7 linked regions of the Homo sapiens genome follow. The protein of the gene in region 3 purifies or fractionates together with the protein of the main gene of each other region. This does not show direct contact. Each region holds a gene or a part of one and is shown on either strand. Other genes may lie near its edges. The genes, in order: EMC2, COPB2, XPR1, TRPM4, METAP1D, KIF5C and PJA2.

The links.
Region 1: the proteins of XPR1 (region 3) and EMC2 purify together in Homo sapiens (affinity purification with mass spectrometry; one large-scale study listed by BioGRID and IntAct). This does not show direct contact.
Region 2: the proteins of XPR1 (region 3) and COPB2 purify together in Homo sapiens (affinity purification with mass spectrometry; one large-scale study listed by BioGRID and IntAct). This does not show direct contact.
Region 4: the proteins of XPR1 (region 3) and TRPM4 purify together in Homo sapiens (affinity purification with mass spectrometry; one large-scale study listed by BioGRID and IntAct). This does not show direct contact.
Region 5: the proteins of XPR1 (region 3) and METAP1D purify together in Homo sapiens (affinity purification with mass spectrometry; one large-scale study listed by BioGRID and IntAct). This does not show direct contact.
Region 6: the proteins of XPR1 (region 3) and KIF5C purify together in Homo sapiens (affinity purification with mass spectrometry; one large-scale study listed by BioGRID and IntAct). This does not show direct contact.
Region 7: the proteins of XPR1 (region 3) and PJA2 purify together in Homo sapiens (affinity purification with mass spectrometry; one large-scale study listed by BioGRID and IntAct). This does not show direct contact.

The regions. Positions count from the first base shown.
Region 1 is NC_000008.11:108,446,624-108,450,123, reverse strand, and holds part of EMC2 (ER membrane protein complex subunit 2), read right to left. Parts: intron 302-3,500; coding exon 188-301; intron 1-187. UniProt on the Homo sapiens protein: Part of the endoplasmic reticulum membrane protein complex (EMC) that enables the energy-independent insertion into endoplasmic reticulum membranes of newly synthesized membrane proteins.
Region 2 is NC_000003.12:139,369,148-139,372,647, forward strand, and holds part of COPB2 (coatomer subunit beta'), read right to left. Parts: intron 2,687-3,500; coding exon 2,576-2,686; intron 398-2,575; coding exon 309-397; intron 221-308; coding exon 114-220; intron 1-113. UniProt on the Homo sapiens protein: The coatomer is a cytosolic protein complex that binds to dilysine motifs and reversibly associates with Golgi non-clathrin-coated vesicles, which further mediate biosynthetic protein transport from the ER, via the Golgi up to the trans Golgi network.
Region 3 is NC_000001.11:180,827,522-180,831,021, reverse strand, and holds part of XPR1 (solute carrier family 53 member 1), read right to left. Parts: intron 1-3,500. UniProt on the Homo sapiens protein: Inorganic ion transporter that mediates phosphate ion export across plasma membrane.
Region 4 is NC_000019.10:49,171,292-49,174,791, forward strand, and holds part of TRPM4 (transient receptor potential cation channel subfamily M member 4), read left to right. Parts: intron 1-65; coding exon 66-127; intron 128-286; coding exon 287-478; intron 479-717; coding exon 718-817; intron 818-3,500. UniProt on the Homo sapiens protein: Calcium-activated selective cation channel that mediates membrane depolarization. While it is activated by increase in intracellular Ca(2+), it is impermeable to it.
Region 5 is NC_000002.12:172,006,453-172,009,952, reverse strand, and holds part of METAP1D (methionine aminopeptidase 1D, mitochondrial isoform 1 precursor), read right to left. Parts: intron 1-3,500. UniProt on the Homo sapiens protein: Removes the N-terminal methionine from nascent proteins. The N-terminal methionine is often cleaved when the second residue in the primary sequence is small and uncharged (Met-Ala-, Cys, Gly, Pro, Ser, Thr, or Val).
Region 6 is NC_000002.12:148,878,227-148,881,726, reverse strand, and holds part of KIF5C (kinesin heavy chain), read right to left. Parts: intron 1-3,500. UniProt on the Homo sapiens protein: Microtubule-associated force-producing protein that may play a role in organelle transport. Has ATPase activity. Involved in synaptic transmission. Mediates dendritic trafficking of mRNAs.
Region 7 is NC_000005.10:109,334,222-109,336,974, forward strand, and holds the end of PJA2 (E3 ubiquitin-protein ligase Praja-2), read right to left. Parts: 3' UTR 501-2,753; downstream 1-500.

The sequences.
Region 1 (3,500 bases), on a different chromosome or scaffold from region 3:
AGCTTACTACTACCAAGCAATTATAAATCCTTCTCAAAATAAACTATCATTAAAATTCTTGGGACAAAAAGTCACAAAGAAAATTAATATGACAAGTAGAAAAATCATGAATGAAAGAACAGTTAAAAAAAAAAAAAGGCCCATGAATGAGGCATGTACTGAGCCTGAATGTAATAAAAGAACTTACTATCATCTCCCAGCTTAGAAGCATATTCATTAATTAATTCTTCTCCAACTTCCACAATTTGCTCACTATTTCTTGAGTTTTCTTCTCTCCATTTTCTCATTTTATCTCTCATTTCTGAAAAAAATAACATGACATTTAAGTGTATATGTACCCAGACACACACATACACATCCGATAGATGTCAAAAACCTGACAAGACAAAATCAGCTTTTTAGGTAAGGAAAATAAACTCACAATCATGTAGAAGTCTGTGGTATCTCAAATTTGATAAAGTAGAAAATTAATTGAACAAGGGCAACAGATCCTTTAGAAGACTGAAACAGCATTACAACTGGTATTATGACTATCTTTAGAAGTGATGAATGGGCCAGGCACGGTGGCTTACATCAGTAATGCCAGGACTTTGGGAGCCCAAGGTAGGACAATCACTTGATCCAGGAGTTCAAGACCAGCCTGGCCAACGTGGCGAAACCTTGTCTCTACTAAATATACAAAAATTAGCCAACTATGGTGGCACACACCTGTAATCCCAGCTACTCAGGAGGCTGAGGCAGGAGAATCGCTTGAACCCAGGAGGCAGAGATTGCGTGAGCCGAGATCGTGCCACTGCACTCCAGCTTGAGTGACAAAGCAAGACTTTGTCTCAAAAAAAAAAAAAAAAGGCAGCATGGTGGCACCCGCCTGTGGTCCCAGCTACTCAGGAGACTGACGTGAGAGGATCACTTGAGCCTGGAGGTTGATGCTGCAGTGACCTGTGATTGCACCACTGCACTCCAGTCTGAGCAACAGAGCAAGACCCCTGTCTCTTAAAGGTTGAAAAAGGAGTTCAACAGGCATATAACAAAGTAAGTTATCCTATACAGAAAGAACTACTGGTAGCTGGGAATTAAATAAACACACTAGGATCAGGAAATGAGTGTATAAGAAGTAAGAAGAGTGAGTTTCTTGGAAGACTTTTATTTCATACTAGAGAACTTTAAAGTTTGTTTTTAAAGGTACAGAAGAACAACTTAAAAATGCTGAGCAAAAGAAAAGCAACACAATCATGGCTGTCTGACAGGAAAATCATTCTGGTGCAAAAAAAAAGAAACCACTAGAATTTTAAATTTTATATGTCAATTTTAAAAATAAATAAATTTGAAACCAAAACAAAAAGCCCCAGAAGATAAACTGGAAAGGAGTAAACAGTTCAAAGAAAAGAAACTGGTTGTATTAGTCCGTTTTCCCACTGCTGATAAAGACGTACCCGAGACTGGGCAATTTACAAAAGAAAGAGGTTTAACTGGACTTGCAGTTCCACGTGGCTGGGGAGGCCTCACAATGATGGCAGAAGACAAGAAGGAAAAAGTCATATCCTACGTGGATGGCAGCAGGCAAAGAAAGAGAGCTTGTGTAGAGAAACTCCTGTTTCTAAAACCATGAGATCTTGTGAGACCCATTCACTATAATGAGAACAGCATGGGAAAGACCTGTCCCCATGATTCAATCATCTCACAGTGGGTCTCCTCCTCAACACATGGGAATTATGGGTGCTACAAGATGAGATTTGGGTGGGGACACAGAGCCAAACCATATCACCAGTCATAGAGGACGTATAGTATACTGGAAAGAACATGGACTTGATACACTTGGTTTGAATCTAAACTCCATCTTTTACATGACCTTACATAACTTACCGAATCTGTACTTAGTTTCCAATACCAATGAATAGAGATAATATTACCTTTAGCTCAGGGATGAGCAGTTAAGATTACATAAAATATATATAAAGTTGCTTGGTTCGTACAATAGTTTGGATATTTTTGTTTTTAAGTTGATTTTGATTACCCTTAGATAAGGGTATACACTTACCAGTTCTTCACAGGCACCACTATTGTCTTTCACCCAACTACATGTATTTTCATCTGCTTGGCCCTTGAGTTTAGGACACCAAACACTAGAAAATTCGTGTAAAGCATTTTATAAAATGTGAAGCCCTACAAAAATTCTAGTTACTTTTATTTTTTAAAAAAATCTGGTAACTGTTTCAGCCTCTCACAAGAAATAAAGGCTCTTCCCTCACTCTTTCCTCAAAGGTGGCTTAAAACTTTCATTTTACCCTTTCACCTTCCTGCAAAAAGCTCGCTCCTCAAAGCCAAGGTCATTTTATTACATACTATGTAAGTAAGCTTCTCACTGCTTGCTTGTACATTTTATTAACTACTGTGCAATCCTGTGAGATGAGCTAAAGGTCAAAGGTTAAGAGAGTCGCTATGATTGTTCTGTTTATTCCTTCCATGACAACTTGCATGAGATGTCACTGCAGTGAGGTGGCCTCTGAAAGATGGAAAAATATGCCTGCTACTTAATTATGATTTCTTTAGTCCAAAACTACTTCCTCCAATCCTGTATCTTTTCCACTTCATTTTTTTATATATTCGGAAATACCACTTACAGATTCATTTACATAAACCAGCATATTCTTTTAAAAGGTTGATAATTACAGGATAATAAATTTTAAATTATTCATGGTCCCATAAAAGTATCTAGTCAGATTGGCTGCAGGCTGTTGGGAACAGCTATTCTAAAAGAAAAGGCAACCTGATTTGAAAAAGGAAAGGGTTAATTTATTTTAATGCACACAGAGCTCCAGAAGACGTATTTTTCAAACTGTGTATTACAATCCATTAATAGGGTATAAAATCGGTTCAGTGGATTTCTTCCAGCATCTGTTGGGGGTGGGGGGGCAGTGGGGGAGAATGAAACAAAATGAACAGAATGGAAGCAATACTCATTAGAATCCTTTGTAAATGCAACTTTGGTTTCAGTTTATACATACACTCAAAGATTCATGTATAGGTATACTTAATTGAGTATGAGTTAATTTGTAAAAGGTGTTTCTTATTGTGAAAAAACACTCATAGGAAAGAGAACTTTTTTTAAAGCATAACTTCTAAGAACGGCAGTCTGACACACAGTCACATATTAAAATATAATAGCTGAACACAAAACAAGAAACACTGTGTATGAAAATATAACTTACAAAACAAGCAACATTTTACCTATAAACACCTTAAGCTATACACCTTACATAGCTGACCCTGCCACACTCTTGAGTGCTGCTGTAATAAATACATTTGTAGCACTATTAACCACATACTACTTTTAGAAATGCCTTAAATACATTTATCTAAAAAAATTATTTGTAAAAATAAAACCATCTTGAAGAAAACATGTTTTCACCTTTGATAGCTCATTACCTCAAAATCACAGCATCCGAAAATCAAGTCATCTTCATTTCCTAAAAATATGGCCTCCCTTCCCAATGTTCACA
Region 2 (3,500 bases), on a different chromosome or scaffold from region 3:
TTTTGATAATCGAAGAGGGAGAGCAGGGTACAAAAGACACTTCTTGGCCTTAGGGACCCAGAACTCATCACAAAAATAAATATTCCAAAAACAACAATGGAGGGGAAACTCACATGTTTGGGCTGAATTTCAATTCTTCGTATGAGTTCTGTATTGTCCCAGTCATAGAAGGCTAAGCCATTTACAGATCTGACTCCCAATAAGAAGCCGCCGTAGATACCTAAAGGGAACATAAAAAGAGTTTTGCTTAGGCATTTTTGAGCCATTACAAAGAATTTAAAAATGTATCATATGTAGATCACACTCACTTTCTGCTCCAAAATCTGGTTTAAATGATTTTTTTTCCTTAAAGTTCTTAAATATCTTTACAATGCTGTTGCTCTCTCTTATTGCATACCTGGGAGAAAAAAGGGAAGGCAAACATAACATGTTATATACTAAATCATAGTTCTACCAAATGTTGGAAATATCTTCAAATATTTTTCAGTAATTATGCAAAAATATAAAATAAATATTTGAAGATTATCTGATGTACTGTTTTCCTAAGAGATCAGAGAACTCCTTACAGTTGGACAAATGATGAAAGGGTTTTATACTGTGTATGACATGAATTACTAGGGCTTACAAACCACTTTAGAAACTGAAAATGACCCAAATGTCCACAATAGGTGAATGATTAAACAAATTATCGTATATTCATATAATGGAATGCTACTCTGCAAATAAAGAAACCAATTACTGATCCAGGCAAGAATATGGATGAATCTCAAAAACATTATACTGAACAAAAGATGCTGGACTCAAGAGTACATACTGTATGATTCCATTTATATGAAACTCCAAAGACAACTCTAATCTATATAGTGACAAAAGGCACTCATCAGTGTTTGCCTGGGACTGGGGAATGGGTGGATGGGGGGTATGGACAGACTGTTAATGGAGACAAGGGGATTTTGCGGGGATGATAGAAATGTTCTATAATTTGATTGTGTTAGTAGTTACGGATTACATACATTTGCCCAAATCTACTGACATGAACAGTAGTCCTCCCTTATCCATGGGGGATACGTTCTAAGCCCCAATGGATGCCTGAAACCTCAGATAGTACTGAACCCTATATACACTATGTTTTTTCCTATAATGTAAGAGGTGGGCAGCATATACAATGTGGATATGCTAGACAAAGCGATGATTCACGTCCCAGGTAGGATGGCTCAAGATTTCACCATGCAACTCAGAACACTGGGCAATTTAAAACTTATGAGTTGTTTATTTCTGGACTTTTCCACTTAATATTTTTGGAACACAGTTGACTGTGGGTAACTAAAACTGCAGGAAGGGAAACCACAGATCGGGGGATCGCTGTACAATTAAGTGGTACATTCTGTCTTCTGTAAATTATACCTCAATAAGGGCGATTTAAATAATAAAAACTGTGACAAATGGTTCATTAATCAGCCATCATCAGCAACAACTGCTTATATTCAGGCCTCTGCCTTGAAAAAAGGAGCTGTGGCTATCACTGGATATTTAAGATTGTCTGAGGAAGTGATGTGATGAGGGCTTTGCTCAGGACAGGAAAGATGCTGAGCAAGGTCTTGGCTGGATAGAGCTGAAAAAAAGGACTATCAAAATAGAGGAAGAGGTGTGCTGAGAGAAGGCAATTCATCAACTATAATTTTGCTTAAGATAACACATTACCTTTGAATACATAGAACTGTATGTATATGTGTATTTAGGAAATTTATGAAAATATCAGAACAATTCCATACCTCTCAATAAATCTTACTGTTGTAACATTTTAAAAAATGTATCTTATTACACAACGCTGAGGCTTAAGTTACCCCACTGTTGGGGGCAAGATGCAACATAAAATGTGGGGCAAACAAAACTAAAAAAACTGTGAAAATGTAATTCAGTTGTGTGGTCTGAAAACACTAAACCCCTAATGTTTATTACGTGCATTAAACAGGAATCAAAAAGGAACCAGAGCCAATGACTAGTAAAAAAGTCAGAGTTAAATGATCTTTCCTGCTTTTAATGAGAACATTTTATGAACATTCTGAATTCAGACAGAAATTTGTTAAGAATGGGCAGTGGGTACTATCACAGAAAATAAGTTTTAAAAAAGATTTAATAAATTTCTCATCAAAATGATCAAACCACAACATCACTCCCAAGTAGCTCATAAAGGGGCAGTAGCACCTCAGGACACTACATCACAGGGAGGGCATGCCAAGGCCTGCCAAGGCAGACATGAGGGTCTACTGTGCCTTAAGCCCATAAAGCACCAGGTCCTGCCATGGGCTCCATCAAAGAAATGGGTGCTGGGTCCCCAGTTAAATGGAATTATTGTATCAGCTTGAGTGAGCCAGCCTAACGCAGAACAAAGAAAGCACTAAGACGGCTCATGCTATACACTCGCCTCTGACTCTCATCTTCCAATGGACAGCTCTGGTGAGAACTGTTTTTTAACACGGAGAATCACAGCCCACATCAAGCCTTGAGAGTCTTCAAGCAGCACACAACACATCTGCAATCAGGGCATGCTGGCTATCATACAATCAAAACTTACTCTGAAGAATCGTGGGCCCATGCAAACTCCTGAGCAGATCCAAAGCTCTTGTTTCTCAATGCCATTGCTGTGTAGATGATATACTCCCCATCACCACACACCACCACAAACCTAGAAATCACAGAAGCCAGGGAGGGAAGTACAGAGGACCAAAGACATGTAGAAGTTAAGGAACAATAATTCATGTTATGGTAAAAGAATTCTAATAACAAATGTTATTTAGTTCATTATTACAATTTAACATCTTTTAAAAGTTATACATTTCTTTGAATACAAAGTTACAAAAAAAATTCTAGCCAACAAATTGAAAAGGAAATTATGAATATGGCATTACTGCTGAAATGTTATTGGAATGGTCTTCTCATAAATAAAGGCAACTGGAGGCAGGAAGGTGAGAATGGCTGGAAATGCAAAGGAGGAGGATTCCAATTATTCAACCAGTATTTGTTGAGCACCAAGATGCCTAGAACTTTGCTCATGACATTTATACCACAGGAAGGCACTATATTATTACAAAGACTATCTTCATTTTAAAGCTGATCATTCAAATGAATAAAAATATCTCACTCCAGGTTTTAAAGACTTAAATTCAGCAAAATACAGAGGATATTTTAACATTTAAATAATGAGAAAACAGAATGCTGCAGAGTCAACGAAAATTTTCCCAATGGACATAAGACAACTATCTTTAAAGTTGTTTATAACACTGTAAAGGCTGGTATCAAAAGACTGCCAAAGGCAAAACTTACAGCCAAGAATGTTTTACGATATTAAGGGAAATATGCATAATGCATTCTTAACCTTTATAAGACAATTATATTACAAATAATTATGGATACCATTTACTGAACTAGGCGGCATACTTGGTTTATATCTTTTGTCTTTTTCAATACTCAGCACAGCATTATAAGATGCCCAGACCTGC
Region 3 (3,500 bases):
ATGTATTAAATGTATTGGGCAGTAACTCATGCAGTGTATTTTCCTCAAGGCTTTATGCAAGCATTAACTCATCTTCATAACAATTCCATGAGCTAGGAACTATTCATATCCCCATTTTACAGAAGACCGACACAGACTCTTCCTAACATATTCTGTGGAAGCCTGTTTATCACTACAAAGGGAAATCTTGGCATTGCAGAGAAGGGAAGTAGGTACCAATGCAATTACCAGAAATAGGCTCAAATTGTGCAGATTGTCTTGATAAGCGCTGTGTGAAGTGAAGATGGGATGAAGGAAGCCTTAATCCTCATCCTAAAGGACCCCTTTCTATCTTATACAGTAGGAAATGTGACTCCTGAAAGAAGAAATTCTGAGTAAGTAGAAGTTTTGAGAAAATGAATCTAATCTCTAGCTCTGATTATCTAGTTATATTCATTTCATAGACATATTCTACTTGGGAATCTGTAACTCTCTTCTCAGACTTGGCTGGATCTGTCTTCTGTTTCTCTAAATATTTATTTTTATTATGTCAGGGAGATAAATGGTCACATTATGACTCAATCCTGGATGTCAACTACCTATGACGGGTACTTTCTTGGAGCTTTGGAAGCTAGACCAGGTGTCTGTGGGACATCATACAGGCTTTGAGACATTATTTTCTGGTGCTGATATACTTTCATTCCATGGCTCAGTCTCTTAACCACTCTCATAATCTTTCCATGAGTCCAACAAACCAGAGAGACAATCTATACCATTTGCAACCATAAGCGCCCGATAAAGCAAACTTTTTGTGAGGAAGAGGGGGACTGTAGGATGGTAGTCATCTATGCACGAAGAAGCTCTGGCACCAGTTTCTGTAATATTTTAAGAAACTCTAGTGTGCAGAATGGACTTAAAGGATTCAAAGTGACAGAAATATAGAATAATTTAGGATATAACACCAAAAGATCAGGAAGTCTAAATCCATCTCTAATCATGAACTATTATGAAACTGGTAGCCTAGGACAAATTTCTTTATAACTGACATGAGACAGACTATCATTACTCTCATACTCTGCCAACCCCATCCTCAAAACCTGGCTAATTCAGAAAATCTCCATAAGAGCAGAAGAGGGAGATAATGCATTAAATAAGGAAAAAAGGGATGGTGGGATGGGACTGAAAAAGGATAGGACTGACATGAAAATTTAAAAAAAAAACTGGGAAGAAGGGAAAATTTACAAAAAGAGAAAATGAAAAAAGGAAGAAAGAAGGGAGTAGTAAATGTTATATAATACAACCAATGAAGGGAAGAATATAATTACAGTCATTCATGTATTTAACAAAGACTTATCAAGTATTTATTAAATGTCAGGCACTGCGGCTTACAGGCCTTAATGATCCACAGTCTAGTTGGGCAAATAAATACATAAAGGTATAATTATAGCACCATATTATAGAGATACACACAAAATACCCTGGAAATACAGAGAAAAGAAGAAGTCACTCTGTCAGAGGCCGGGTGAGAGGGAGAGCATAAACATCATACTCAACTCACTGACATTTACACACAGTCAAATTCATTCTAGATTTATCTGATATCGCCTTCTGGGAGAGAATTCTGTAACTCACTCCTCCTTCTCTTCTTAATCTGGATAAGGCCTTTCAACTTCTCCACTTCTACCCTGTGATTTTGATTAAAGTGACAATTCCTAGAGTAACAGTATTATGAAAGCCAGAGACAATTCTGGATAGCTGATATTTTACCACCTACACAAAAAAGCCACTAAATTATTACAAAGAACATGTTAACATCCTCTTTTAAGTTAATACTGATAAATAGCTAAGAAGATGAAGTTTTAATTTCTACTTTTCATGGAGTGCAGTGGTACAATTTCAGCTCATTGCAACCTCAACCTGCTGGACTCAAGCGATCCTCCTCCCTCAGCCTCCCAAGTAACTGGGGCTACAGATGCGTGCCACCATGCCCCACTAATTTTTCATTTTTTGTAGAGAAAGGGTTTTGCCACGTTGCCCAGGCTGGTCTCGAACTCCTGGGCTTAAGCGATCCTCCCACCTCCGCCTCTCAAAGTGCTAGGATTACAGGCATGAGCTACTGTGCCTGGCCTCAAATTTGATTTTTATATTCTACTAGTTTGATCCACTAGATCAAAGTTAAACATCTAACATAAGTGACTAATAGGGCTAAGTGTTAAATGTTAGTGTTTAAGAGTACAGATTATAAACGACTGCCTGGGTTCATAACTCATCTTCATCACTTCACTGGCTATGTGACCTTAGGCAAGTTAATTAACTTCTCTGAATGTAGGTTTCTTCATTTATAAAATAGGGATTAATAGCAGCTCCAACTTGTGGGTTATTTTTAAAATTAAAATACATAAAGTAGTTACTAAATGACAACACCTCTCTATTCTTATAATAGAAATGTGTAAAATTTTTACTATAGAACTAAAGAGACTGTTGGTAAAAACTGATGTCTAAATTATGTAACAAAGGACTATAATTTAAAATTTTTAATTAGCTTACTTTTAATATAGTGAGTTAAAATTTATATTTTTGTTTAGAAAATCTGAGGCACTGTTTATGCTACCTAATTAGATTTCTGATTGAGGTAAATATAGATTTAAGGAGAGAAAGTATAACCTAATGGATGTAAATAATCTATACTAATTTGACATACAATATTCATATCAAAATAAATCAATTTCTTATAAATTTTTTTAGCTTTGTTTTTAGGAGCATAGCATATATCAATTCCATAGATTCCAATATAAATATGGATATAAATGGCACCCAGTGCCTACCATTATGACCTATGTGCTTTTCTCACTAAAAATTAAAGAAAAGGATGGGTGTGGTGGCTCACACTTGTAATCCCAGCACTTTGGGAGGCAAGGCAGGCAGATGACTTGAGCCCAGGAATTCGAGACCAGCTGGGCAACATGGCAAAACCCCATCTCTACCAAAAATACAAAAAATTGGCCAGGCACGTTGGCACACACCTGTGGTCCTAACTACTGGAGAGGTTGAGGTGGGAGGATCACTTGAACCTGGGAGGTGGAGGTTGCAGTGAGCTGAGATCACGCCACTGCACTTCAGCCTGGGCAATAGAGCCAGACCCTGTCTCAAAAAAAAAAAAAATTAAAGAAAAAAAGAAAGAAATGTACTTTTACTTTAGGATGAAGCTTTTAAAAAGCGGTATCAGAAAAACATAACTAGAGTGAACACATTCTTGTTAATTCACTAGGAATCAGTCTAAGGGTAAGTTTTCCCAGTGAGATTTAAATTAAAATAAGTCAGCAGGTCAATTAATACTAAAATTATCTACAAATGATAACACTGTTCTGTTTATAACAGTTACTACAAAAACAACAAACCACAAATATAGAAGGAAATTATTCCTTCTATATTTCAGTGTATCTGATAGTACATTTTATTATTCTATTACTGCTTATACCATTGTCAACCTATTCCATCAACAAGTCCTCATTTATTAGCAA
Region 4 (3,500 bases), on a different chromosome or scaffold from region 3:
GTTTTCTCCTATCTCCAGCAAAGGCTGATGGGAGGTAATCAAGCCCCCTTCTCTTCTTGCCTCAGGGACTGGAATTGACATCCCTGTCCTGCTCCTCCTGATTGATGGTGATGAGAAGATGTTGACGGTATAGGGGCCCGGATGCCCGGATCTAAGGGGGAAGGAGGGTTGGGGGCCAGGACTCCTGGGTCCTGAGTCTTAGGGAGGGTCTGGGGGTCTGACTCCGGGTAGGGTGAATATCCTGCCTTTTCTGACGTGATGAATAAAGAATGCCTTTATCCTGTAGCGAATAGAGAACGCCACCCAGGCTCAGCTCCCATGTCTCCTCGTGGCTGGCTCAGGGGGAGCTGCGGACTGCCTGGCGGAGACCCTGGAAGACACTCTGGCCCCAGGGAGTGGGGGAGCCAGGCAAGGCGAAGCCCGAGATCGAATCAGGCGTTTCTTTCCCAAAGGGGACCTTGAGGTCCTGCAGGCCCAGGTATGACACTGGGGGCCCAACTCTGGATCCTGAGATGGGAGGGAACTGGGGACTTGGGCTCCTGGGTCTGAGGGAGGAGGGGCTGGGGGCCTGGACTTCCAGGTTCCGGGAGAAGAGGGTGCTGGGCATATAGACTATTAGGTCCTGGAGGGGAATGGCCTCCTCCATCCCTTTGGACAGGGCCCAACAGGAGTTGGGGATGGAGGCGGGCTAGGGATGCAGAACTGGCTATTCCACAGGTGGAGAGGATTATGACCCGGAAGGAGCTCCTGACAGTCTATTCTTCTGAGGATGGGTCTGAGGAATTCGAGACCATAGTTTTGAAGGCCCTTGTGAAGGGTAAAAGTTGTACCCTCCAGTCTTCCCCCTCTCTCAGTTCAACCTTAGACACCTTTCCTGGCCTGGGCACTTCATCCACCCTCTCTAATCCAAGGCCCATGCCCCCTTTACCCCTCTTAATATTTTTCCCCTTTGGGGCTTTGCATGGTGCTATTTGGGCAGTTTTCCCAGATGCTTTCATTATGTTCCAGCATCTGCTTTCCTCTGTTGGATCCATCCATCCATTCTTTCATCTTTCCATCCATCCACATGTACAGATCGATCTTTCCATCTCTTTACCTACCATCCTTCCAGTCATCCCTCATTCTTTCATCCATCCATCCTTTCACCTGTCCATCCACACATCCACTGACAATTCCTGAGAATTCCATCCGCTCATTCCTCCATCCGTCTTCTCACCTGTCCATCCACACATCCACTGACAATTCCATTCAGTCATTCTTCCATCCATCCATCTTCTCACCTGTCCATCCATGCATCCACTGACAATTCCTGAGAATGCCATCTGCTCATTCTTCCATCCATCCATCTTCTCACCTGTCCATCTACACATCCACCGAAAATTCCTGAGAATTCCATCCACTCATTCCTCCATCCATCCATCTTCTCACCTGTCCATCCACACATCCACTGACAATTCCATTCACTCATTCTTCCATCCATCCATCTTCTCACCTGTCCATCCACACATCCACTGACAATTCCTGAGAATGCCATCCGCTCATTCCTCCATCCGTCTTCTCACCTGTCCATCCACACATCCACTGACAATTCCTGAGAATTCCATCCGCTCATTCCTCCATCCGTCTTCTCACCTGTCCATCCACACATCCACTGACAATTCCATCCACTTATTGTTCCATCCATCCATCTTCTCACCTGTCCATCCACACATCCACTGAAAATTCCATTCACTCATTCTTCCATCCATCCATCTTCTCACCTGTCCATCCACACATCCACTGACAATTCCATTCACTTATTCTTCCATCCATCCATCTTCTCACCTGTCCATCCATGCATCCACTGACAATTCCTGAGAATGCCATCTGCTCATTCTTCTATCCATCCATCTTCTCACCTGTCCATCTGCACATCCACTGAAAATTCCTGAGAATTCCATCTACTCATTCCTCCATCCATCCATCTTCTCACCTGTCCATCCACACATCCACTGACAATTCCTGAGAATTCCATCCGCTCATTCCTCCATCCATCCATCTTCTCACCTGTCCATCCACACATCCACTGACAATTCCATTCACTCATTCCTCCATCCACCCATCTTCCATCCATTTACCCATCTACCCATCCATCTTTTCATTCATCCATCCAACTGTTCTTCCATCTATCCATCCACCCACCCATTCTTCCTTCCCTACATGCTTCCAATATACATGAAGCACTCTGGCTAGACATGAACCAAAGCACTGTCTCCCAGTGAGGAAGTCCAGATATTTCACTAGAAATGGCAGCTTGGAGGACGGAATGATGAAAACCAAGGCGGGGGAGCATAATGCACACCTGGGAGAGGCTGGGGAGGGTCTTATTTATTTATTCACTTATTGAGACAGGGTCTTGCTCTGTAGGCCAAGCTGGAGTATAGTGGTGTGATCACGGCTCAGTGCAGCCTCAACCTCCCAGGCTCAAGTGATCCTCCCACCCCAGCCTTCCAAGTAGCTGGGAACATACCCGCCCACCACTACACCTGGTAAATTAAACAAAAAAAAAATTTTTTTTTTGTACAGACGAGGTCTTGCTCTGTTGCCCATGCTGGTCATGAACTCCTGGCCTCAACTGATCCTCCTGCCTCAGTCTCCCAAAGTGCTGGGATTACAGGCATGAGCCACCATGCCAGCCTCCTTTATTTAGTCAACAAATACAATCCTAGGCTCCAGAGACTAAAGCCAACCCATTTCCTGCTCTCAAAGACCCCAGATCCCACTAGGATTGTTTGGATACAACCTTAGGTAAAATTTAAGACAGAAGCACAGGCAAGAATCACTGTCGTTAGAAGGAAAACTTCAAGGAAAAGTTGTGTGTGTGTGTGTGTGTGTATTTTGAGACAGAGTCTTGCTCTGTCGCCCAGGCTGGAGTGCAGTGGTGCGAGCTTGGCTCACTGCAACCTCCGCCTCCCGGGTTCAAGCGATTCTCCTGCCTCACCCTCCTGAGTAGCCGGGATTACAGGCACGTGCCATCATGCCCGGCTGATTTTTGTATTTTTAGTAGAGACGGTGTTTCACCATGTTGGTCAGGCTGGCCTCGAACTCCTGACCTCATGATCCATCCACCTCGGCCTCCCAAAGTGCTGGGATTACAGGTGTGAGCCACTGCACCTGGCCAGAGAAGTTGGCATTTAAACCGGACCTTGGCCAGGCACAGTGGCTCACACGTGTAATTTCAGCACTTTGGGAGGCTGAGGAGGGAAGATCGCTTGAGCCCAGGAGTTTGAGACCAGCCTGGGCAGCATGGTGAAATGCCACCTCTATAAAAAATACAAATAATAAGTTGGGGAGGGTGGCGCATACCTGTAATCCCAGCTACTTGGGTGGCTGAGGCAGGGGAATCGCTCGAACCTAGGAGGCAGATTGTGCCACTGCACTCCAGCCTGGGTGATAGGGCAAGACTCTGTCTCAAAAAAAAAAAAAAAAAACCTAAATAAATAAACCAAATAAACTGGACC
Region 5 (3,500 bases), on a different chromosome or scaffold from region 3:
TCCTCCTTTTCTGCTTTGATGCCCCTTCCCTTCCTCGGGTCTCCTTTCCAGCAAACCACCAGGTCATGATGATTTCTCCTCTGTACCATTTCCTTGGCATCCATCTCTCCCTTTCCATCCCGCAGTCATTACCCTAGTTCAGGTCCTTCTGTTTCTGCCATTATCTTCTAACTGACTGCAATGGCTTTCCCTCTCCAATACATTCAGAACACACAAGCAGCAGATTAAAATGGAGACACCATCTCACTTTCTTGTTAATCCTCTCTTACCCTACAGTCTTCCACTCTAACATTAAGGTATAGTAAGAGTTTCTTAAATTCCATATATTAGAAATGCTACTTCTGTCAATAGCTCTTCTATCTTGAATCTTGCAATCCTGCCTCACAATTTCAATGCTCCATGACGTTTCATATACTTTCAGAAAATTAAAGAAGTAGATACACAATTAAAAATAAACCCATATAAAAAAAATTAACCCATATAATGACCCGAAACAAAAATTCATTGGTCACTTTTGGAGGATAAACCTGTTACGGTAGTCTCCTCTTAGATAAGAGTTTCAGTTATCCAAGGTCAATCAAGGTCTAAAAATATTAAATAGAAAATTCCAGGCCGGGCGCGGTGGCTCACGCCTGTAATCCCAGCACTTTGGGAGGCCGAAGTGGGCGGACCACGAGGTCAGGAAATCGAGACCATCCTGGCTAACACGGTGAAACCCCGTCGCTACTAAAAAATACAAAAAAAATTAGCCTGGCGCGGTGGTGGGCGCCCCTAGTCCCAGCTACTCGGGAGGCTGAGGCAGGAGAATGGCGGGAACCCGGGAGGTGGAGTTTGCAGTGAGCAGAGATCGCGCCACTGCACTCCAGCCTGAGAGACACGGCGAGACTCTGTCTCAAAAAAAAAAAAAGAAAGAAAATTCCAGAAATAAACAATTCACAAACACACCGTTCTGCACAGCGTGATGAAATCTCACACTGGCCCACTCCATTCTGCTCAGGACATGAATCCTCCCTTTTGTCAGCAGGTCCACACCCTGCACACTAGCAACCCATTAGTCATCCACATTCTCTGCTTCTGACATCATGTCATGGCTTAGTGATCCAGGATCACCTGAAGCAGATGATTCTCCTTCAGACATGTAGTCTAAAACTACATCACAATGCTTTCTCATTCACCTCACTTCATCACGTAAGCATTTTATCATCTCACATCATCATAAAAAAAAAGGGGTGAGCACAGTGAAAAAGATATTTTGAGAGAAAGGCCACATTCACCTAACTTTTATTACAGTATATTGTTAAAATTGTTCTATTTTTAGTGATTGTTGTTAATTTCATACTCTGCCTAATTTATAAATTAAACCTTACCACAGAAATGTGTGTATAGGAAAAAGCATAGTACAGCACCGTGCAGGGTTCAGTACCATCTGTGGCTTCAGACATCCACTGAGGGTCTGGGAACATACCCCCATTGGATAAGCGGGGGACTATGGTATTTTAAAAACTGATAAATAAGGAGAACAAACCATTTAACTTTCCTTGCTGGGACAGGGCCTGTCAGGGTAATGAAATACTTGATGAGAAAGTTTCTCTTTGTAGATGTTTTCTAGCTGATAAATAAAGAAGGAGTAATTAAAATATTGTCATTTGTAAACTCCTAATGAGCCAGGTCATGATTGCCAATGGCCACTAATGTCTCCAATGTCTCCAGGCCACAATGTCTCCAGCAACACCACTATGAAGTACTTGTACCAAAAAATGTCTAACTTAAATCAGGCCTTGGATCTAACTACCATTTTATAGAGGAACATCTTCAACAAGCCCTGTGGAATATAATACCATCAGCAAAATCCACAAAATGCAAAGCTCCACAGAACCAATAGGCTAACCAGTTGCTTCAACAAATAATTTTCAAAAAAAAAAAAAAAGGGAAAGTAAACTTATAGATTAAAAAAAATAATAATATCCGGCTAGGCGCGGTGGCTCATGCCTGTAATCCCAGCACTTTGGGAGGCTGAGGTGGATCACTTGAGATCAGGAGTTGGAGACCAGCCTGGCCAACATGGTGAAACCCCGTCTCTACTAAAAATACAAAAATTAGCCGGGTGTCGTGGCATGCGCCTGTAATCTCAGCTACACAGGAGGCTGAGGCAGGAGAACTGCTTGAACCCAGGAGAAGAAGGTTGCAGTGAGCTGAGAATGCGCCACTGCACTCCATCCTGGGCAACAGAGACTCTGTCTCAAAAAAAACAAAATTAATATCCTTTTCCATCCATTCCAGCATAACTGGTACTAGAATTCCCACCTGTCTTAACCAATTAGACAAAATATGTGAAGCAACTATATCTTGGCACTGGATATTAGGCAATGCAGGACCATGAACCTTAAAAGAAAACAATACAACACATGAGCCCACACTGGCCTCAGCCACCCCCTAGAACTAACAGCAAAACACAAATAGATCCATCCTAACAGAGAATAAAAACCAAGCCTGAAAGAATCAAACAGATTTAACATATTGCCTGGCAGTTGTTTAAAACATATGTTAAAGAAAAACAACATAATCTCCACCAAGATATTATCTGTCATGCCACTTATAAAATTAAATATTACATGATTAGCCAGACATGGTGGTGTGCGCCTATAGTCCCAGCTACTTGGAAGGCTGAGGCAGGAGGATTGCTTGAGCCCAGGAGTTTGAGGTTGCAGTGAGCTATGATTGTACCACTGCACTCCAGCCTGGGTGACAGAACAAGGCCCTTCTCTTAAAAAAAAAAAAAAAAAAAAATTACATGACATGGGAAGCAGCAGGAAAACGTAATGTACAATAAAAAAAAAAACAGCAGTCAACAAAACAGAAACAGACTCTGAGGAGACCCAATAATAAAATTAACAGATTTTTAAAAAGCTGTTATAAATATGTATGTTCAAGTACTTAAAGGAAAAGATGAACATAATGAGTGAACAGGTGGGAAATCTCAACAAGAAATGGAAATTATAATGCAAATTCTAGAACTGATATGTACAACGTAAGAAGAAAAAAATGGCTCCCTATCTTTTAGAGATACACGGTAAAAAATCTACAGATGAAATAATATATCTGGAATGTGCTTCAAAATAATCCACCTGTGGGGAGGCAAAGTAACTGGGAGTATAGATGTAACAATAGTGGCCATAGGTTGATGACTATTGTAACTAGATGATGGCTACGTGGGAGTTCATTGTACTATTCTCTCTACTTTTGCATTATGTTTAACTGTCTCCATGTTCAAAAGCTAAAAAAGAAAATTCAGTCTCCGTAAAAACAAGCTGTTTCAGCTTAAAACTAGATGTTGTTCAAATGAAGTTCTGCATACACATAGTACTTCTCCCATCTTTGCCAAGTTCCCTAAGATATATAGCATCCACACTGATTTTTATGGATTTCTAATGCTTGAGGAAAGCGGGTATTTCATAGAAACTATAAATATTGGCCAGGCGCAGTGGCTCACACCTGTAATC
Region 6 (3,500 bases), on a different chromosome or scaffold from region 3:
TGATTTAGAGGTAAGGACTAAAGGGAAATCAAAGGTAGGGGGAGGTTTCCAACTGTGAATGGGAAGAAGAGCTGAGAATGGAAAACATCATTAAATAGGGGAGTCGGGCCAGACAAGCACAGGTGAGGCAGAGGGAAGTCTCCAGTGATACCCAAGTTATTTACAGAAATGCAGAAATTGGCATTTATGGAGTCGTGATTTCAGGCAGGGAAAGGGGGAAAAAAAACCTTCAGTCAAGATACATTTACTAAGCAATTACACAACTACAGTAAAGGAGACAAAAATTTAATTAAAAAAAGAAAAAGAAAAAGCTACATGGGAAGATATACACACGCACACGCACACACAAACATGCATGATCACAAAGGAACAGCTAACGTAGTCTAGAGCTAAATGAAATATGAGTTTTGCCTTCAAGGATAGTTAGAAATACCAGAAATAGATGAAAACAGTGGGTATTCCAACCAGGAGAATGGGGTGAACAAATGCCTAAGAAATGGTAATGCAAGAAGGGTTTTCAGGGGATAGCCAGAAGGGGCACTAATTTGTGGGGCCAAAGCTAATGTTGACATGAGGAAGGTCACCAAGGGAACAGGAGACATAGGAGGTAATCAGCGCCTATTGAGCATTTTCTCTGTGCCAGACACTCTCTCACCACTTCATTTCATTTCATCCAAATGACCCTGTGAGGTAAGTAATTATTATCTGCACTTTCAATACAAGAAAACTCATGCCCAGGAAAGCTCAGCAACTTGAAAAAAAAAAAAAAAAACTAGGTTTTTTTTTAGCTAGTGAATCTACACTCGGTTTTGTCTCACCCTTCCTGCTACCTCTACCCACCCCATTCACTGACTGTGTGCCTACTGTGAATAGTGAGTGGCCTCAGTGACACACGCCAGATTACAGCTCTCTATGATGTTCCCTCAGTCCATGATTTCACAGGGTACATGTGAAGGAAACCACTAACCCATTTCAGGTGATATAAACATCTCTGAATTTAGGGCACAGAGGAATGAAGAACTGATACATCCTGACACTACTAGACTAGAATGCACTTAGACAAAGTGACTAAATAAACTTACTTTGGTTTAAAATGTTACTGCTTTTAGATGGAAATGCAAATTGGTACAACCACTTTAGAAAACAGTTTGGCAGTTTCTTACAGAGTTAACCGTATGGTTACTTTACAACCCAGCAATCCCATTCCTGGATATTTACCCAAGAGAAATAAAAATGTATACTCACACAGAACCTATATGCAAAGGTTTATAGCAGCTTTATTCATAATCATACCAAACTGGAAACAAGCCGAGCATGGTGGCTCATGCCTATAATCCCAGCACTTTGGGAGGCCAAGGCAGGTGGATCACCTGAAGTCAGGAGTTCAAGACCAGCCTGGCCAACATGGTGAAACCCCATCTCTACTAAAAATACAAAAATTAGCTGAATGTGGTGGCACACGCCTGTAGTCCCAGCTACCTGGGAGGCTGAGGCAGGAGAATTGCTTGAACCCAGGAGGCAGAGGTTGCGATAAGCCAGGGTCACACCACTGCACTCCAGCCTGGGTGACAGAGCAAGACTCAGTCTCAAAGAAAAAAAAAAAAGTGGTATTACTGCGTGTAAATTTGAAAAAATTGTTTTAATGTTATTGCTTTGGAAGACCATTACTGTGGAAAGAAGAAAAGTTTTAAGGTGTAGCTGTATTTCTTCACTTAATCTCTAAAATCCTAACTCAGGCGCGGATTTGGTCTCCAGGCCCCTTCCCCATCCATCTACTGCCAAGAAATAATCTAAGCTTCTGAAGACTGGGGCCACTTTCCAGCTTAGGGTTTGTGGCTGATGTTTTGCTCTGGCTCTTAGGCCCTCAGGAGGAAGCACTCATCTTTAACAAGACCTGCTTTCTCAGGACTGCAAACAAGAGAAAAGCCCAATAAGAGGAAAGTGAAGTGTGAAAATCCATTTCAAAGAACTTTACTGAGAACTCACCATGTCAGAGAGCTTCCATTAATACAGTTGCTTCAAAACCAATAGGCAGAACCCAAAGTAATGGATGACTCACCAGGACTTTTAGCAGCTAATGGAGTACTCTGAGAAATGCTGTAAATCCAATATTTTTGCTGAAAAATTAATGTGTTATGGGAGGGAGCCTCTTTTCTAATCACTTACCCACCCCCACCCTCTACTTCTAGTTCACCATCAGCATCTTTAGCTCTTCTAATTTTTGCCAAAGCTGAATGCAGTTCTTTCCCAATTTTCTTATATCATTTTAAGTATTATATATGCTATCTTACCAGGCCCACTCAGAGAAACAGCACTTATCTTTAAAATTATTTTTTAACTACTCCCCACAGCCTACGGCCAATAAAAACTCTGTAAACTATGTTAAATATACCAAAGTAAAGTTTCCAGAATTCACAGAGAGATCGATAAATATTTACTAAGTGCCTTCTACAGACAAAGCCCTGGGAAGTATAAAGGAGCAAAACATGCACAGTTCTTGTCTCTAAACATGGCTTACAATGTCATTAGGCATATGACCAAAGCTAATAATAATCCAAGGCAAAAAACTTGGGAGATCATATACAAAACAAATGCTATAGGAGTTCAAAGTGGGGAAAGACTGTGGCTGGTGTGGTCAGAGAAAGACAGCTTTGCACAAAGCTGAAAAACTGCAGGAGTGATGGAGAACATTTCTCCCAAACAGGACATTTTCATAAAAGAGAAATCTAGAAACTCCACCTGTAAAATCTCTTTCTTGGAATATATCTCCATAACAAACAGAACTTTAAGGGAAAAAATGACCCCAGTTTCAAAAACACAAAGAATTTCTGGGATTCTGAATTTGGACTAACAGATAACTCCACCAAAATTCATTCTTTACTTGTCTCTGTTTGAAGGTGACATATTTCTGGATGATCTGGGCTTCTTTGGTCATCCACAGTCTGTGCCCCTAGAACTAAGGAAGGTTGTGTACATCTCAGACAGTTTTCACTTGCAACTGAGCCATGTCAGCCGGCTCCAACTGAATTGACTTGGGACCATTCTACTCATTGCATATGGCATGATACAGACTGCCAGAACCCTCATTTCCTTTAGTGCCACATTATCAATTAGGAATGGGAAGGATCCTGGCACATGCCAACCCAACTCCCAAACCCTTCAGTATCTGGCAGTCTTCTATTCTGTACATGCACTCACCAAAATATACATAAACGAATGTTCATAGCAGCACTAGCCATATTAGCCCCAAACCGGAAACTATCCAAATATCCATCAACAGTCAGTAGACAAATTGTAGTATATTCATATCATGGAATACTACAAAACAATGAGGATGAATTTGACAAGCATAACACTTAATCCCAAGAAACCACACACAAAAGAGAACATACTCTATGGTTTTATGTAATATAAAGTTAAAAAGAAACAAGCAAAACTAATAGCATCAGAAGTGAGAATCATGGTTACCCTGAAGCAGGGGGATTTAGGGACTGGAAGGG
Region 7 (2,753 bases), on a different chromosome or scaffold from region 3:
TGAATAGCTGGGATTATAGGTGCACACCACCATGCCTGGCTAGTCTTTGTCTAATTGAATTGCGTAATTTATCAGCACCCAATTGACCCTTCTGAAATGACTGAGTTCTCTGAACTGTTTGAGAACCACAAGGAATCTTGCTAAACAGTTAGATTTAATAATATTTCCATGCCTGATTTGGAGAAAACCACTGATGTGAGGTGGGCTCCCTTCCTTATTAAGGGTTTCTGCAGTCCGGAGTCAGTGTGGAAATCAGGTTCTGCTGAAACCTACGGGATAGCTAAGGATGTCAGGGAGGAGAGGGCAAGGACTCAGAGACCCTCCAGCAGTAGGAAGTCCATCAACTACTTCTGTCTGGCTCTTTCTAGGGCTTTCTTAGATTATAGTTCAAGGACTTCTAACATCACATGCTCAGTAGTGTTATCTGTCATTAACTCTAAATCCTTCAGGGGTTACATTATAGAAGTGATACAATTACACAATTAAATATTAGAAATGACCACCGAGTATATTCTGTTTATTGTTTATGATTTACACAGAAAATGATGGGCTGGGGTTATAGAACAATAAACCAACCATTACATTTAGACCTGGGCTTTTGAAAAACTTGCATTCCATTTTAACAATTCGTATGTATCTAACAAATACATAAATCCAGATCACAAATAATCTTAAGAGTTAAACAATTAAGAAACACAAAGAATACCACATAGATCTACCTTTAAATATCAGCATTCATATTATAAGAAATAAGAAAATGTTAAAAAAATAAAATTAGGTTAAGTCACAACATAAAATAGAGAAATAAGATAAATGCTATTTTATTAATATTCATACTTATTTCTAATTTACCTTCATATAGTCTTAACTTTTTCAAAAGGATCCAAGATATGATCAAATAATATTTTAGTATCTGAACTTGCCAGCCTTAGCTTATACCAGAGCTTGTTACCATGAAAATCCTAAAACCTCAATTTTCTTTTTCTTTTTTAAAATTTAAGCCAACTCTTATTCAACTTTTCTTCTTCACAGCAGCTGTTTATAGATAGTAGGGAGCCAAGAATGAAGGACAGTAACAGATGGAAAGCAAAAAGTACAACAGCTATCTTAAGTTCAGCTCTCAACATTGCTGGTTGAGTTTGGAACCAAAACCTCTTAACAACTGGCAGATAATAGCTAAATCTTAACAGACAAAGAAGAAATATTTTCTTTGGGACAGCTGCTATCTAGAAGAAAACCAAGGTCCCTTAATATAGTCTAAATATAATGTGTGGCTTATTATAGAGAAATCTTTAGCAACGTAAGTTTAACCAGTAAGTGTCACAACTGATCAACAGTACTTAAAAGGAAACAAACAAAAATCACACTAGCCACAAATTTCCACCATATACACATGAAATTAATTTTAATCTGTTTTGACTCCTTGACACTAACTGATCATTAATGAAATATGATATGGAAAGATCACAGAGTAGAAAACAAGCAAAGATTAGTTTATACAACAGTGACTATATACATCAGAGGGAAAACATGCTAGCTAATGCAACATTAAGGCCTGAATGTAAGCATTTCCCAAGTCACAGAAGCCCCAAAGAACTCCTAAATTACAAATTCATCACATTACATGCATGCAATGTTCACTTTTGTTTTACCCATAAAAGGATACACAGTATTTTGCTGTAAATACCAGACACATTTACAATATATGCAAAAATTAGAATGCAAGTGTTATGTTCCTTATATTTAAGCCTCATATGTGCCAACAGTGAAAATTCATTTATTTTTAAGAATGAAAAAAGGAGACGGGATATAAATACTCAGAGAAATACACGAATAAGATGTAACTCTGCATTTGGGAAGCCATATAAATATTCCTTTTATGTGCCCAAACTAAATTATCAATGTACCAGTTAGACGGACATACACTCACTATGTGCTTTACTATTTTACTTGCTCAAATGTTCTACAGTCATCATTCTCTAGTGTTAACATCAAATCACATTTGTAAGTGAACTATTATGTCCATGTTTGCACATACTCGTCCACTGTGTGTGATCACCTGAAGGAGACATTGTGCATCTTAGTTTGGGGTTATATAATTACAAAGATGACCCTGTGCAAGTTTTCAGACCTTCCAAAATACTGTAGAAGCAAAATTACCTTAAACTAACTATAAGCAATATTAAACAAATGTGCCATGAGTGTTCTGGGCCTTCAAGTATAATTTTAACCAAGGAGAAACAGGTTGGGTAAGAGGTTAGAAAGAGTTTCATAAGGCCATCTAATTCAGCTCATTGTACCAAGCCCTGAGCACACTAGATTCTTTGTATGCTTTACTAACCTTACGTTAAGCACATCCACTGGTTTCATTAAGGATTTTACTACCTAACTTTATTTCAGGGGGAGTTACGTCTACGATTTAAAACTTTTGTAATGTTCTGGCCAAAATTTTAGCCTTCATTTGGCATTCTGAAAAGTTCTAATTTTAAACAAAAATGGACTTTCTGAAAAATTTCTCAGCATATGAACCAAGAGGTTATGATATAGCAAAATCAAAGGGACTAGTGAAAAAGCATACTTTAGAATTTGTTTCATTTCCAATGAAACCAAATTTTACTACGGTTGTGAACACAGTCTTTACATTTGATGCAAACAGGACAGCTTAATTATAATCACTTAGTGGCAGTATTACAGACAAAGCCAATAACGTATGCCACACAGATGATTATTTATTCTGGAGAGAGTCAACTGAT